Linked DNA regions of Homo sapiens. The protein of the gene in region 2 interacts with the protein of the main gene of each other region in a biochemical or structural test. Each region holds a gene or a part of one and is shown on either strand. Other genes may lie near its edges.

What was found. The genes of interacting proteins can lie anywhere in the genome.
Region 1: of the proteins of ETV1 (region 2) and MAPK14, one has a biochemical effect on the other in vitro, tested with the Homo sapiens proteins (one study listed by BioGRID).

Annotation. Positions count from the first base shown.
Region 1 is NC_000006.12:36,030,772-36,037,807, reverse strand, and holds part of MAPK14 (mitogen-activated protein kinase 14), read right to left. Parts: intron 1-7,036. UniProt on the Homo sapiens protein: Serine/threonine kinase which acts as an essential component of the MAP kinase signal transduction pathway.
Region 2 is NC_000007.14:13,986,631-13,994,218, forward strand, and holds the start of ETV1 (ETS translocation variant 1), read right to left. Parts: upstream 3,037-7,588; 5' UTR 2,933-3,036; intron 2,835-2,932; 5' UTR 2,638-2,834; intron 2,510-2,637; 5' UTR 2,423-2,509; coding exon 2,378-2,422; intron 2,254-2,377; exon of another isoform or gene 2,214-2,253; coding exon of another isoform or gene 2,184-2,213; exon of another isoform or gene 2,137-2,183; coding exon of another isoform or gene 2,050-2,136; intron 1,544-2,049; coding exon 1,456-1,543; intron 56-1,455; coding exon 8-55; intron 1-7. UniProt on the Homo sapiens protein: Transcriptional activator that binds to DNA sequences containing the consensus pentanucleotide 5'-CGGA[AT]-3'. Required for olfactory dopaminergic neuron differentiation; may directly activate expression of tyrosine hydroxylase (TH).

The DNA.
Region 1 (7,036 bases), on a different chromosome or scaffold from region 2:
CCCCATTTTTCCCAGGATGCTGGTTTCTAACTACTGGGCTCAAGGAAACCTACCTTGGCCTCCCAAAGTGCAGGAATTACAGGTGTGAGCCACTCACTGCACCTGGCCAGAATATAGCTTCTTAAGGCAGAAATTTTTGTCTCTTTTGTTCACATTTCATCTCCAGCACTTACGGCAAACCATACATGGTAGGCACTCAAGGTATAATGAGTCCTGTCCTCAAGGAGATTACCATGAACCTATGCTCCTTCCCCTTTCTCTCTACAATCTTGTACCCTGTAACACTCTTTTGTAACTTTGTAACACAAAGTTCAGAAAATGGCACTAAAATATATCCATTTGCCCAAGGCCAAAACTTAGAAATCCTAGACTCCTCACTCTCCTATACTTCTTTCCCCCAACATTCAGCCTTGGAGCCAAGCATGCCCAAAACCCAGTATCCATTTGTCAAGTACAGAATTTACAAACCACCACTTCTTCTTCCCTATAATAAATTATTAAAAGACTTGAACACTGCACGGGAAAGCTGGTTAATTTTGTAAATCCTTAACACATACATACAGGTGTACCTCAAAGATATCATGAGTTCAGTTCCAGACAACCACAACACAGTGAATATCACAAAAAAATGAGTGACATAAATTTTTTGGTTTCCCAGTGCATATAAAAGTTATATTTACATGATACTGTAGTCTATTAAGTATGCACTAGCAGTATGTCAAAAAAATATATATATGCACATACCTTAATTTAAAAATATTTTATTAGCCGGGCACAGTGGCTCATACCTATTACTCTCAGCACTTTGGGAGGCCGAGGCAGGAGGATCGCTTGAGGTCAAGAGTTTGAGACCAGCCTAGCCAACATGGTGAAACCCCATCTCTATTAAAAATACAAAAATTGGCTGGGCATGGTGGTGCACACCTGTAATCCCAGCTACTCGGGAGGCTAAGGTGGGAGAATTGCTTGAACCTGGGAGGTGGAGGGTGCAGTGAGCCAAGATCGTGCCACTGCACTCCAGGCTGGGCAACAGAGCGAGACTCCATCTAGAAAAAATAAATAAATAAATAAATATTTTTTTGCTAAAAAATGCTAAGGGTCACCTGAGCCTTCAGCAAGTTATTATCTTCTTGCTGGTGGAGGGTCTTGTCTCAGTGTTGATGGCTGCTGCCTACTCAGGGTGATGGCTGCTGACTACTCAGGGTGATAACTGCTGAAGACTGGAATGACTATGGCAATTTCTAAAAATAAGACAACGGTGAATTGCTGCATTGATTTATTCTTCCTTTCGTGATAGATTTCTCTGTAGCCTGCAATGGTGTTTGATAGCATTTTACCCACAGTAGAACTACTTTCAAAATGGGAGTCAATCCTCTCAAACCTTGCTGCTGCTTTATCAACTAAGTTTATGTAATATTCTAAACCCTTTGTTGTCATTTCAACAATGTTCATAAGCATCTTCCCCAACAGCAGATTCCACCTCAAGAAACTACTTTATTTATTCATTCCTGAGAAGCAATTTCTCATCTATTGATTTTTTTTTTTTTTTTTTGAGATGTACTCTTGCTCTATCGCCCAGGCTGGAGTGCAGTGGCACGATCTCGGTTGCCACTTGGTTGCAGTGGCTCACTGCAACCTCCACTTCCCAGGTTCAAGCAATTCTCCTGCCTCAGCCTCCCAAGCAGCTGGGACTATAGGTGTACACCACAACACCAAAAAATATAAAAAACAAATTTTTGTATTTTTTCTAGAGGCAGAGTTTCGCCATGTTGGCCAGGCTGGTCTCAAACTCCTGACCTCAGATGATCTGCCTGCCTCAGCCTCCCAAAGTGCTGAAATTACAGGTGTTAGCCACCGCCCCCAGCCACCTTGCACTATAAGTTATGCTATGGAGACAGGTTCTTTCCTTAAACCTATGAACCACCCTCTGCTAGCTTCAAACTTATCTTTTGCAGCTTTCTCACCTGTCTCAAACTTCATACAATTAAAGAGAGTTAGGGCTTTGCTCTAGATTAGGCTTTGACTTAAGGGCATGTTGTGGTTGGTCTGATCTTTTATCCAGACCACTAAAACTTTCTCCAGCTCAGCAACAAGGCTGTGTTGCTTTCTAATCATTCATTTGTTTACTGGAATATAATTTTTAATTTCCTTCAAAAACTTTTCATTTGCATTCACAAATTGGCTGTTTGGTACAAGAAGCCTAGCTTTCAGCTTATCTCAGTTTTCGACATGCCTTCCTCACTATGCTTAATCATTTCTAGCTTTTGATTTAAAGTAAGAGACATGCAAACATTCCTTTCACTTGAACATTCAGAAACCACTGTAGTGTTATTAATTGGCCTAATTTCAGTATTATTGTGTCTCAGGGAATAAGGACGCCTTAGGAGATGGAGAGAGGGAACAGCTGGTTGGCAGAGCAGTCAGAACACACACAATGTTTATCAATTAAGTCTGCCTATGGGCATGGTTCCAGACACCTCAAAACAATTACAACAGCAACATCAAAGATCAGTGATCTCAGATCCCCATAATATTTAATAATAATGAGAAAGTTTGAAATATTGCGAGAACTGCCGGGCACAGTGGCTCACACCTGTAATCCCAGCAGAACTGCCGGGCATGGTGGCTCACACCTGTAATCCCAGCACTTTGGGAGGCCAAGGCAGGCAGATCACAAGGTCAGGAGTTCGAGACCAGCCTGACCAACATGGTGAAACCCCATCTCTACTAAAAATACAAAAATTAGCCAGGTGTGGTGGCACATGCCTGTAGTCCCAGCTACTTGGGAGGCTGAGGCAGGAGAATCACTTGAAACCGGAAGGCGGAGGTTGCAGTGAGCCGAGATCGCACCATGGCACTCCAGTCTGGGCGACAGAGCAGAACTCCGTCTCAAAAAAAAAAAAAAAAAAAGAAAGAAAGAAATATTGCGAGAATTACCAAAATGTGACACAGAGACATGAAGTGAGCACATGCTTTTGGAAAAATGGTGCCAAAAGACTCGCTTACCACAGGGTTGTCACTAACCTTCAATTTGCAAAAAAAAAGCAATTATCTGTGAAGCATAATAAAACGAGTTGTGCCTGTGCTTAATTTATGGAAGCACTGTGAAAGACAAACTACTCTGAATACTGAAAGTTTCTTTTACAAAAACATTTCCAAGTTTAAAGAAGTTTTTGGTTATTTTCCTGACGAAACAGCTGCATGACTTCCATAGCAGCCATGAGAAGACATCCCTAAGTTCCAAGTCAGGGGAGCCCACTTTATAATGAGGCTTTTCTGAGCACTGCAGTAATTATACCTCTTAGATAAGAACAAATCAGTTTTACCCCAAATTTTACTGCAAAAAGCAAAAATCTAATGTATTTTCAAAGGGCTGGAGAGGCAGTTATTTCTATTTATATCCTATACTTATGTAACACAAACATGTACAGACAGTCCCAACTTTACATAAATGTACACTGAAGAATTTCAATCCAATAGGATTCATAAATTCAGGAATTAACTATTTGCACTGCCTAATAATTCCTTCAGAAAAAATTTTAATCTGGGCAATGAGTGCATTTTTGATTTATCAGTTCTGAGGAAGAGACATGACTCTAATGGGTTAAATGGGTTAAGTCATTACCCCTCACATAAACTGGGCAATGACACTGGTGGAACTGCTTTCCTACACTCAAGCTCTATTCCGAGTGACTCAGCAACCCCTTTTTCACAAGAGGAGGTTAACTGCATAAGAGAAGGTGCCACCGCGCAACCTCAGCAGCCCACATCTATCAGAAAGGAGACTACTAAAAGTAGCATTGACAAGTATGCCATTCCTTTAATGAATGAGTCCAGCTCCCCATCTATAAAATGGAGTTAATAAATATGAGCCTCCATGGAGCTAGTGAGAACTGATTGATAATGCTTTGAATGAAAACACTTTATAAACTGCAAAAATCCCTAAAAATGTCAGTTAATTCTAAAGTGAGGGTGATCTACCCCAGTGAATTCTTCCATCTTTGAATTCTAGGCCCCAGGGGCTCAGCAATATCTGCACTCTTGCCCATGAAAGGCAAAGTCAACACATCATCTCTGAGACTGGGCTAGAAAGAAATCAAAAGCAGAGTACTCCTCAGTATCAAGAAATCAAACTGGCAGAACTGAAAACCTGGAGATCCAGGATAAGCTTATTTTAAAGAAGAACCAGTGGAGGCTGGGTGTGGTGGCTCATTCCTGTAATCCCAGCACTTTGGGAGGCCAAGGTGGGCAGATCACAAGGTCAGGAGTTCGAGACTGGCCTGACCAACATGGTAAAACCCCGTCTCTACTAAAAATACAAAAATCAGCCAGGCATGGTGGCACGCACTTGTAATCTCAGCTATTCAGGAGGCTGAGGCAGGAGAATTGCTTGAACTCGGGAGGCAGAGGCTGCCGTGAGCCGAGATTGCACCACTGCGCCCCAGCCTGGGCAACACAGCAAGACTCCGTCTCAAAAAAAAAAAAAAGTGGAAAAATGGGATTTGATAATAAAATGACTTTATAGCCAGCTTCGAATGAACTCTTTCTTAAAACAATCTTTATACATCAATAATACAAATGCTTGCCGTTAATTATGTTTAAAGACTTCTTATTGACTGGCACTGGTAACATACAGGCAACTACCTTACTTTTGGTTACAAAGAAAAGAATGGAAAGCTCAGCATGGACCTACTATCACTACTAGAAAAGTAAAGGGCACACCCTTCTCACTGGTCAGGAGTCAAGAAAGTCACCCTTGTATACTTAATAATCATGCACTTTTATTTCTTTGTGCCCTGGCTCATTCTAAAAAAAAAAAAAAATAGATTTAAAATGGTGAATGGCCATTAATAGTTAAAAAAAGTTAGCTTCACTTATTTCTTTTATACTAGAATAATCTTGTTCCACAAAGCACTTAGGAAGTTGTATTTGATTTCTTAGCAAGTTTTGCTATCCTTTTACCAAAGGTTTTGTTATATACTTTTTATGCTGATGATAAAGTGCACAGCACAATGCTAGAACATAGCAAGCAATCCACAAAATGTAGTTATTAAACCCACTAGGCTGTAAGTTCCAGGAGAGAATGGATTGTCTTGTTTCTGTCTTGTTTAGCACTCTATTTCCAGAACCTAGCTATCTGGCCCATGGTAGGTATTCAATAAACACTGTTGAATAAACAGTTGAATAAGATCTAAGAGTAATTCTCAACTGTCACCTCCTATTTCATGGTTACCAGTGTCCCACCTCCTCTAATCAACAGCAAGGGCCTGGAAGAACCCTACCCCAGAGGAAAGGCACTTAAGTTCCTGTTTGTATTTCCTTAAACTCACCACAAAGATTCTCCCCTTCTGTCCCAAAACCCCAAAATCAATGCTTTGCAACAATGTATTCTTAAACAATTTTGCTTCATTTCCCCTCACAGACAATGCATAAAGTTCCTTAAAACTGCAAGACCTAGTCTAGTTCCCTTTACCCTTTAACGGAAAGGCATATTTGTAAAACTCTATTTTGATTCATAGTTGGTTATCACACAGGCTTCTACTTGTTTTTTTACTATACTTAGTATAAATTAAAATAATATAGGCTTAAAATAATTTGTAAATGTTACAAAGTATACCACACTTTAGAGCAATAAAATTCGGAAACTGACAAATATTTCAATGAATGAATTTTATTCATTGAAATATTCTATTCATTTATTTTCATTCTTGAAAATAAAATTCAGGGGCTGGGTGTGGTGGCTCATCCCTATAATCCCAGCACTTCGGGAGGCCAAGGTGGGGGAACTGCTTGAGGCCAGGAGTTTGAGACCAACCTGGGCAACACAGTAAGACCCTATCTCTACAAAATAAATAAATAAATAAAATAAAATTCGGAGATTTTTTTGGAAGTAGACTTCAGGTCCAGTTCAAGAAGTCACACAAAAAATTATGTGTTGTTACTTTATAGTTATAACTCCTATCTGACCTAAAACAGTAGTATCACCAACCTGATTGCCTTATCTTTCTTATCAGACTTGAGTCCAAATTCCCTAAATTATTTGGATTCAAATGAACTGTTATTCCCTAAAATCAAATCTGCTCTCAAAAAAATGAAGATGGATGGCCAGAGACGGTGGCTCACCCCTGTAATCTCAGCACTTTGGGAGGCCAAGGCAAGTGGATCACCTGAGGTCAGGAGTTAGAGATCAGCCTGGCCAACATGGTGAAACCCTGTCTGTATTAAAAATACAAAAATCATCCGGGCATGGTGTTGCGCACTTGTATCCCAGCTACTTGGGAGCCTAAGGCAGGAGAATCGCTTGAACCCATGAGGTGGAGGTTATAGTGAGCAGAGATGGTGCCACTGCACTCCAACTTGGACAACAGAATGAGACTCTGTCTCAAAATAAAAAAGAAGAAGAATATCACAGGCTCCAAAGTGGATTCTAAAAGAAGTTCCAAAAAATGTTTTCTGCCACACCTAAAAAGGTACTCATTGAAAGAACAACTTCAGGCTGGGCACCGTGGCTGAGGCCTATAATCCCAGCACTTTGGGAGGCCAAGGAGAGCAGATCACTTGAGGTCAGGAGTCTGAGACCAGCCTGGCCAACATGGAGAACCCCGTCTCTACTAAAAATACAAAAATTAGCTGGGTATGGTGGCGGGCACCTGTAGTCCCAGCTACTAGGGAGGCTGAGGCAGGAGAATCGCTTGAACCCAGGAGGTGGAAGTTGCAGTGAGCCAAGATGGCACCACTGCACTCAAGCCTGGGCGACAGAGTGAGACTTCGTCTCAAAGAAAAGAAAAACTTCAAATAACTACGCTGAATCTCTGAATAAGATAACACTTAATTGTAAATCTAAATTCTGGTATTTTCATTCCAACATTAGTTATAATTTGTTTATTGTCAATTGTCATACAATTTCAGTTTCAGTTGTATTTTCTTTCACCAATATGCTGTAGGTTACATCTTAAATCCCTTTAGTAGAAAGACTACTAAACAAACAAGCAAATAAAAAAAACTGCCTCTCTGGAAAGACACAAGACACTTAACA
Region 2 (7,588 bases):
GCCTTACCTTCTGCAAGCCATGTTTCCTGTAATTGACTTAGATCTTGAAAGAGTTCTAAAAAACAAGTCAAAGACATAAACATAAGATTTGCAAATCTTTAATCTTCATTAAATGGAAATATTTGTCATGAAATTGGTATTAAATATAAATTTAATTTCAAGAGACGCAGTCAACATAAAAATAAAAAAAAGAGGCATAACTTAAATATCTCAATAATACTGCCTACTTTTCATGCCTATTAAGCAACTCTTTAAGAAATTATTTTAGTCAACTAAAGAATAAAGTCAATCATCTTTTCTTCTTTTTAACAAACAGCTTAATAAATAAGCTCAGGGATACCAGAATTCACAAAAAGGCTGAGGTGAATATGTGTCTGTTCACTGAAATCTTCCTTAAATATATTTAACTCTTGCTAAAATAGTAGTAGGGGGAAGATTAGAAAGACTGAAAAGCATTTTATTTATATCTTCTGAATCTTACATAAAATATATAATGGTACATGGTACAACTGTCAAAGTATTATGTTTTCAACTTCAATACCTCGAAACTAAAAGAAACCACTTCAAATACAAGTTTTTAGAGGAAAATTTCTACATTAATAGGTTTATAAAAGTCAGAAAGATAATTCTTTGGCACCAGGTTCTCATCAAGTTCTAAACTATATGGTCATGTTAGGGAGGGAGAGAGGGAGGTATTTAAATGGTATGAAGATTTGAGGAAGTTTCAGAATTCAGTATATCTAATTAAAATTGCCAACTAAACTTTGATAATTAAATCTAAGTATATTAAGTTTATTATGAATGTCCTCATATGGCTAAAATAATTTGTAACATACTGACATCCTAGCAACAGTTCATAAAAAGAATCTGCAAACTAATTTCCCAAATAGTATTATAATTATTAAGGAGGCCTTAAGTATGATTCAGTGAACACATTATGGTCGATAAACAAGGTATTATGACCTCACAATTTAGTCATCAAAATCACCCTTGAAAATTCTGTTAATAGTAGATGGTTTTAGTGTAAAGGAGGTGGGAAACCAAACAATCACTAATACTGTTTAACTTGTAATAAAGGAGAAAGAAAAAAGTAAGCAGTGTACATAGCTGCTGAATTTGTCCCACTGTATTGGATATTTTTAAATTGTTATCTTAGTGAATGGGGTGAGTTATATGCCCCATGGACAAAGGTATTTAAACACAAAACAATGATTAAAAGAAGGTTGTCATTGAGAAGTTTTTATTTCCTTCTTTCATTACTTTGTGATAGGACCATAAAATAGTCTCCCATGCAAACTGCCGCATTATGTAAATCGTTCCAAGTTAAAGTCTTAGTTAGATTCAGTAATTTCAAAGTTTATTATTTTTAAGATAAGACTGAAGTGCTCCTTTTCTTTTAGCAGGGTGGAGAGTGTAGGTAAAAAAATGGGGATTCAGCCCAAAATCAAACCTCACCTTCTGAATCATGAGCCAGATCTCTGTTAATGAATTTTCTTTTCCTGACATTTGTTGGTTTCTCGTTACAATTTCTCCCACGCTGACTCTACAAAGGGAAAGATAAAATCCTTTAAAAGAATGTAAACCTCAGATCACACACACGCACACGCGCGCGCACACACACACACACAGACATGCATACATAAGTCTAATGGATCTTCTCTGAATAGAAAAATAGAAGTCCATAGTATCAACTCTAATATTCATTTTCTCACTTATTTGACAGTGAAAGCTTATGTTAAGCAGGCAGGGAGAGTTGCTTCCCAGTGCCGATCTTAGCACATTACTATTTATCAATCATATATTCATGGTATCTCAGCATCAAAACAACCTGAAGCATTTACACTTAAAGTTGTTTTTAGGCTGGTTCAATGCTAGATTAAAACAGTGGGTTTTATTCTCTCTTGGACAGCCCCTCCTCCCCACCCCACCCCCACAAAAAAAAAAAGCAAAAAGAGTAGAGAAATGAAAAAAAAAAAAAAGAGAAAATGAGAAAAAAAAAAGAAACAAAAACACCCCATATAAACAAAAAGTGTCAGCATTTGTCTCAACTTCATTCTTTTCAATGTGGCAGACAAACCCAGCCAAAAACTTTGAGTGCAGCAGCTGCTGCTGCCCTCCATCTCCTCTTCCACTCATGTTGGGCACTTTAATCAGAAAAAGGGGTCTTAAAAACAAAACTATGCCTTATCCAAATCACTGAAAGGTAAGCTCATTTTGAAGACTGGGCTTCTAGAAGCAGAGTCGCCCTACAGTGGCAACAAAGCAGATAAGTATCTGCAATCCCAACCCCCGTGCCCCCTCCCTTCTCATTTTCTCCCTCTCCCCACCCCCGACGGAGTCAAGTTTATAAACAGCAACTTTCAAACTGATCACTCACATTGGTGACCATGTAAGGCACTTGCTGGTCATAAAATCCATCCATGCTGCTGCTCTTCGCAAATCTCAGCTCAGTATTTTATATTTTGAGCATTTAGCTGGAGATTTCCTCAGGATCTGGACTTCTATCAACCTAGAGGGGAACAAGATGGCTTTTAGGCTTAAAAAAAAATCATGAATGAAGCTCTTGAATTTGCATAGCTAATTACCCTCCGACAGTCCCATTCACAAAAATAACCCTCCCTACACCGCCTCCTTCACCTGGATCCAAAGAGAGCCAACAGAGTTCACAATTTACATATTTTCGGTAGTAGCAAAAATCCGAACAAGAGGCGATGTATTTATTTACACTCTCGATGTTTCCCTGCGCGGTCGGTGTACCCCGGGCAGCTCTGATTCGCAAACGTGTGCAAAACTAGCAATGGCGATCAACGAGACTTGCTTTGCACCTAACGGGACTAAAGAGACGGAGACACCTCTTTCATCAGGATAGTTTTTGCGACCCACAACCATGCAATTATCTGGAGAGACATAAAAAGTTGTTGGAAAGACCCACCTGAAGGCCACGCTAGGCGAAAGGCTGCAAAAACTTCCCTCCAAATTTAATAAAAACATTAATTATAGCCCAGCACTTCCCCCTTGGAAGCCGAAAGCGCCTCTGACAGAGCTCAATTCGGTGGTTTTTCCTCTACTTCTCCTCCAGGGGCCTCCAATCCAAACTGATGGATCGCTGCCTCCCATTGGCTCCGCGTCTCTTTCACAAGATCAGATTTCGGGCTGTCAATCAGGCGGCTTGCTGCCCCTTCCCGCGGGTCTCCCTCGCCCCTCTGCCCTAGGGGGTGCTCGGCCGGTAGGCGCTGGGTCCTCAGCCTGGAAGCGCCACGGAGAGACTCGATTTCCTCTGTAACCCGCTGCTTATTGTTAAGGCGCCTGGGGATACTGAAACCGTGTGTTTCGAGTCGCCAGTTCCCATTATTGGGGTGTTAGGTCCACTATTGGGCTGGTTTCCTTAAAGTACTGTTGTGCGGTTCTGGTATACCCTTAGAGCCGCGATCCACAAAGCCCGTACCGCCTTATTCAGCTGCCCTCCCCTCAGGATCTCCAACCTCTCTACTCTTGCCCTGACTAGGAGCTCACCTCGCTCTCTATCCTCATTCCCACTCAGCTTTTGGCCCAATTTATTTTCCCGTTTTTCAAAACCCACCATCACCATTATGGTTTATCGAAACATTTTTTAAACAGTCATCCTCAACTAAAATTAGATCCTATCGTTCGTGGGACAGAAACATAAAGAATCTATAAGGAAGGCACCTAGGAGATGCAGAATTGCTGATTAGCAGAGGTTGTGATGGGAGGACAACAGAGCAAGCTAGGTGAAAAAGTATAAGTCAAAATGGTCCCTACGTGTGCACTGGGAAAAGGTACTTCCAGTCCACTGTGGCTGTGGGGAGGAGGAGGGAGTGCTTGGGGTTGCTCGTATATCCTAGAACCCGCACGTTTCCTGAGCTTTTGTTATGTATACACGGAGGCGGAGGGTGTCACTTACTGTACTTGACGCTTTCACTTCCTCTCCAGCTTTTAAACAGCCAGAGCCCAGGGTTGGGGGCGAGCGGTGAGATGGCTCGGGTTTCAAGGACAATAACTAGGACGTTAAGCAGTGAGGGCTGCATCTCTGAAGCCACTTGCCCTGATCCTCCTATGGGACTCAGAACAGTAAAGCGTCACTTTAAGGAGCCAGTGTCCAACAGCGGACGGGAGGCCGCGGGGATAGGACCAGGGACTCAATGCTGTTGAAATTCATTTGTGACCAGAACTAGTGACCAAAAGACGTTTCCGGCAGCTGTTCCGCCCGTTAGGAAACGTGCTGCAGTTCTCAATTTCTATTTGAAAGTTTCCTTCCTTAAATAGAACGTTATGGAGACACATTAAAATGGAGTGTAAGAGCGCACAGCACTCAACCCCGGACCTGGGCAGGAGAAAGATCTACTTAAAAAAGAAGCAAACAAACAAACAATCAACACTTATTACTGGGAAAACAACCAATAACTATGGACAGCAAAGACAGACCCCGCGCATTCCCGGAAACTACTAAATCGGAGTTCACAACGCGCGCACCTATAAGCATTTTGAGCGGGAACTGCATTTTAACCCCGGCCAAGGAGAGATTCCAGGAAGCGCCTGGGCCCCGAGGCTGAACAGTGAAGCTCATGGGTACTATCTGAGGGTGCAACCAAGCAGGGGGTCAATAACAAGGGTCCTCCACCACCCTGCACTCCTGGAATAACCCAGCGCCTGTAATCTGAGCAACAGTTTCCAAAGACCTTCTCTGCAGCCCGAGCCTGACGGGTATCCAGGGTAACCGCGAGGGGGCGGAGCTTCGGGTTAGGTCCCGGCGAGGTTCTTCCCGCAGCCAATAACGAGCCGTAAATCCCCAGCCCATTGTTGTTTATTGCTGACCCCTCAGCGCTCCGCTAGGAGATTGGCCGCTTTAGGGAAGGGGGCGGAGTCCCGCCCGCCCCAACAGCCACCTTTCGTCTCCATTCACAAAATTCCGGCCCTTCTTGGTCACGTGGTTGGGGGCGTGGAGGGGTAGAGGAAATGACACAACAAAGGCCCAAGTATCCCAAACCACAAAACTTTTTTCAGCTCGCTGCCTCCTCTTTGTCCTGTCCCTGAAACAGATACTAGATGAGGAAAAAGAGGTTGGGGTCTGGGAGTAATAACAAGAGAGAAAAAAATTAAGACCGAAATTAAAGGAAGGCTCACGTGGGGATAATTCCGGCGTGCACTGCTTAGACAGCTTTTGCACTAGAGGAAAGAAAGAATTGAGAGTGGGGAGAAAGTCTTAAGGACTGGGAACTTTTGCTTGCTGCTTCAAGTCATTGCTTTTAAAGGTGCAAACTGTTCGACTGTAGATGGATTTCAGTTTTTTCACTTAACATTCTGTAATTTTCATTTCTACCTTTTTTTGTATCCCACAGTGTCTTGTTAGTTTTTTAAAGCTTTTATGTATTATTAGTATTATATATTTTTAGGAATATTGATGGTTTTCGCTGGCTGATAGCTTTAGTTTCCATTTCCAAAGACTTATCACTCCTTCCCAGGCCCCCATAAGCTCTGCGCCCCTTCTCCCTCCCTTTAGTGGACTGGCACTCTCAGGCGCTGCGCTGTTAAGCCTCAGATTTTACTACGTATTGCGGTGGCTTCATATTTTCCCTTTTGAGTTCTTTAAACGAACTCATATCTTTTAACTCTTTGATCTTCATAGTAACTGAAAATGATGTTCTCGTGTGAATAAGCAGCTAGTCTCGCTACAGCTCGGTTTTGTTGAAACAGCCTAAAATTTTGAGATAAATGTGTCCCTCTTGACTGTGAACGATTGAACCACCCTCTTTTCTTTCTCCCACTTTCTCTTCTGTCCTTTCTCTGCATTGATACTTACTGAAACACTATCTCTTCTGTCCTTTCTATGCCTTGATACTCAGACACTAGCTTCTAGTTTGGCAGTTGTTTATCTTCTCTGCTTGGCACTGGGAAAAACCAATAGACCCACTTGCTGAAGACAGTGGAAGGGCTGAAAATTTGTTTTTCAGAAAATGTAAGATCTTGGAAAATATCTGCAAAGGCAGCTGTTCTGTCTACAAGACAGGAACATAAAAAGCTGGACAAAGTTTCCACTACTTTTTGAGAATGTCTTTAAAACATCAGTTTAGTAAATGCCAGCCCTTTTGAACGGAAAATTTCATTTTGGCAGGATTTCAGGCATAGAATGGCAGAGCAGAGGCCAAGAGGCTTTGACATTTATTTGCTTGTATTTTGAAATCCCATTTGGATTTTGAAATAAGAGTTCTTGAGAGAAAGCTACCCCCCTCCAAAAAAAAGTCCATTTTTGAGTTTGGAAAGTTTTTAGGTTGCATGTAAAACTATTTAAATTTTTATATTTCCCTTGCTGTTATTTAATAAAGTAAAATAATATTCATTAGTGACTTCTCTACAGTTAACTTACTATGGCATTATGAAGAAATTGCACGTTGTTAAAGAAAGTGAATTTCTAAAAGCAGTTACAGAAAGGCAACAAGCTAAAATGGCGCTGCTTGTTTTAAATGGTTGCTATAATTAAAATCAAATGAAGTTTGCTCAAAATTGAGTAGAGTATTAAGTAAAACAGTAACTTTTAAAATTTGTTGTATTAAAACAGTATGTAAGGCAAATTGTTAAAGATCTAGTTTGCACAGTTACATCAAATAGATAAGAAAAAGATATAAAATTAAACAGCAAAATTGGCCAAGAAAATGAACAAGTGAAAATAATTCCAAAGGAGAACATAGAGTCCTCACAGGAGGGTGAAAGATAATCAGTGGCTTCAGGAACACTGTATGTGAGGAGTAGCAGAAATTTGAGAGGAGGGTGGAGCCTGGGAAGAAGGTAAGGGTATCAAGGAAACTGATACTATGTAGCTGTATACTCTCTCACTCTCAATACTGCCATTTTCAGCTGGTGACTATCTGTAAACTCCCTCAAGTAGAGGAATTGCAAACAACTTATAAATGTGGAAAAAAAAACTTTTAACTGCACCCCAAATCAGTACATTATACTGTACACTTAAAAAATAAAGAATTTTTTTATTTTTATTATTTATTTATTTATTTATTTATTTATTTATTTATTTATTTTGAGACAGAGTCTTGCTCTGTCACCCAGGCTGAAGTGCAGTGGCGCGATCTCGGCTCACTGCAACCTCTACCTCCTGGGTTCAAGTGATTCTCCTGCCTCAGCCTCCCAAGTAGCTGGGAGTACAGGTGCCCGCCACCATGCCCAGCTGATTTTTGTATTTTTAGTAGAGATGGGGTTTCACCATATTGGTCAGGCTGGTCTCAAATCCTGACCTTGTGATCCGCCCACCTTGGCCTCCCAAAGTGCTAGGATTACAGGCATGAGCCACCGCGCCCTGCCTTAAAGAATGTTTTAACTCATCAATTTGGAAGGAAGTTTCTAATATACTTAGAGTTGGATCCTAGGATAAGGGCACTCATGTATATTGCTGGTTGGAATGTGACTTTTTGAAACCTTTTGAAGGTAAGCTTACAATGTCTACTAGACTTTAAAATGAACATCTATTAGACCCTAAAATTATATCCAATAATCCTCATTTGGGAAATCTATACTACAAAAATAAAAGCAATGGTGCATGAAGACATTTATTGAAATATTA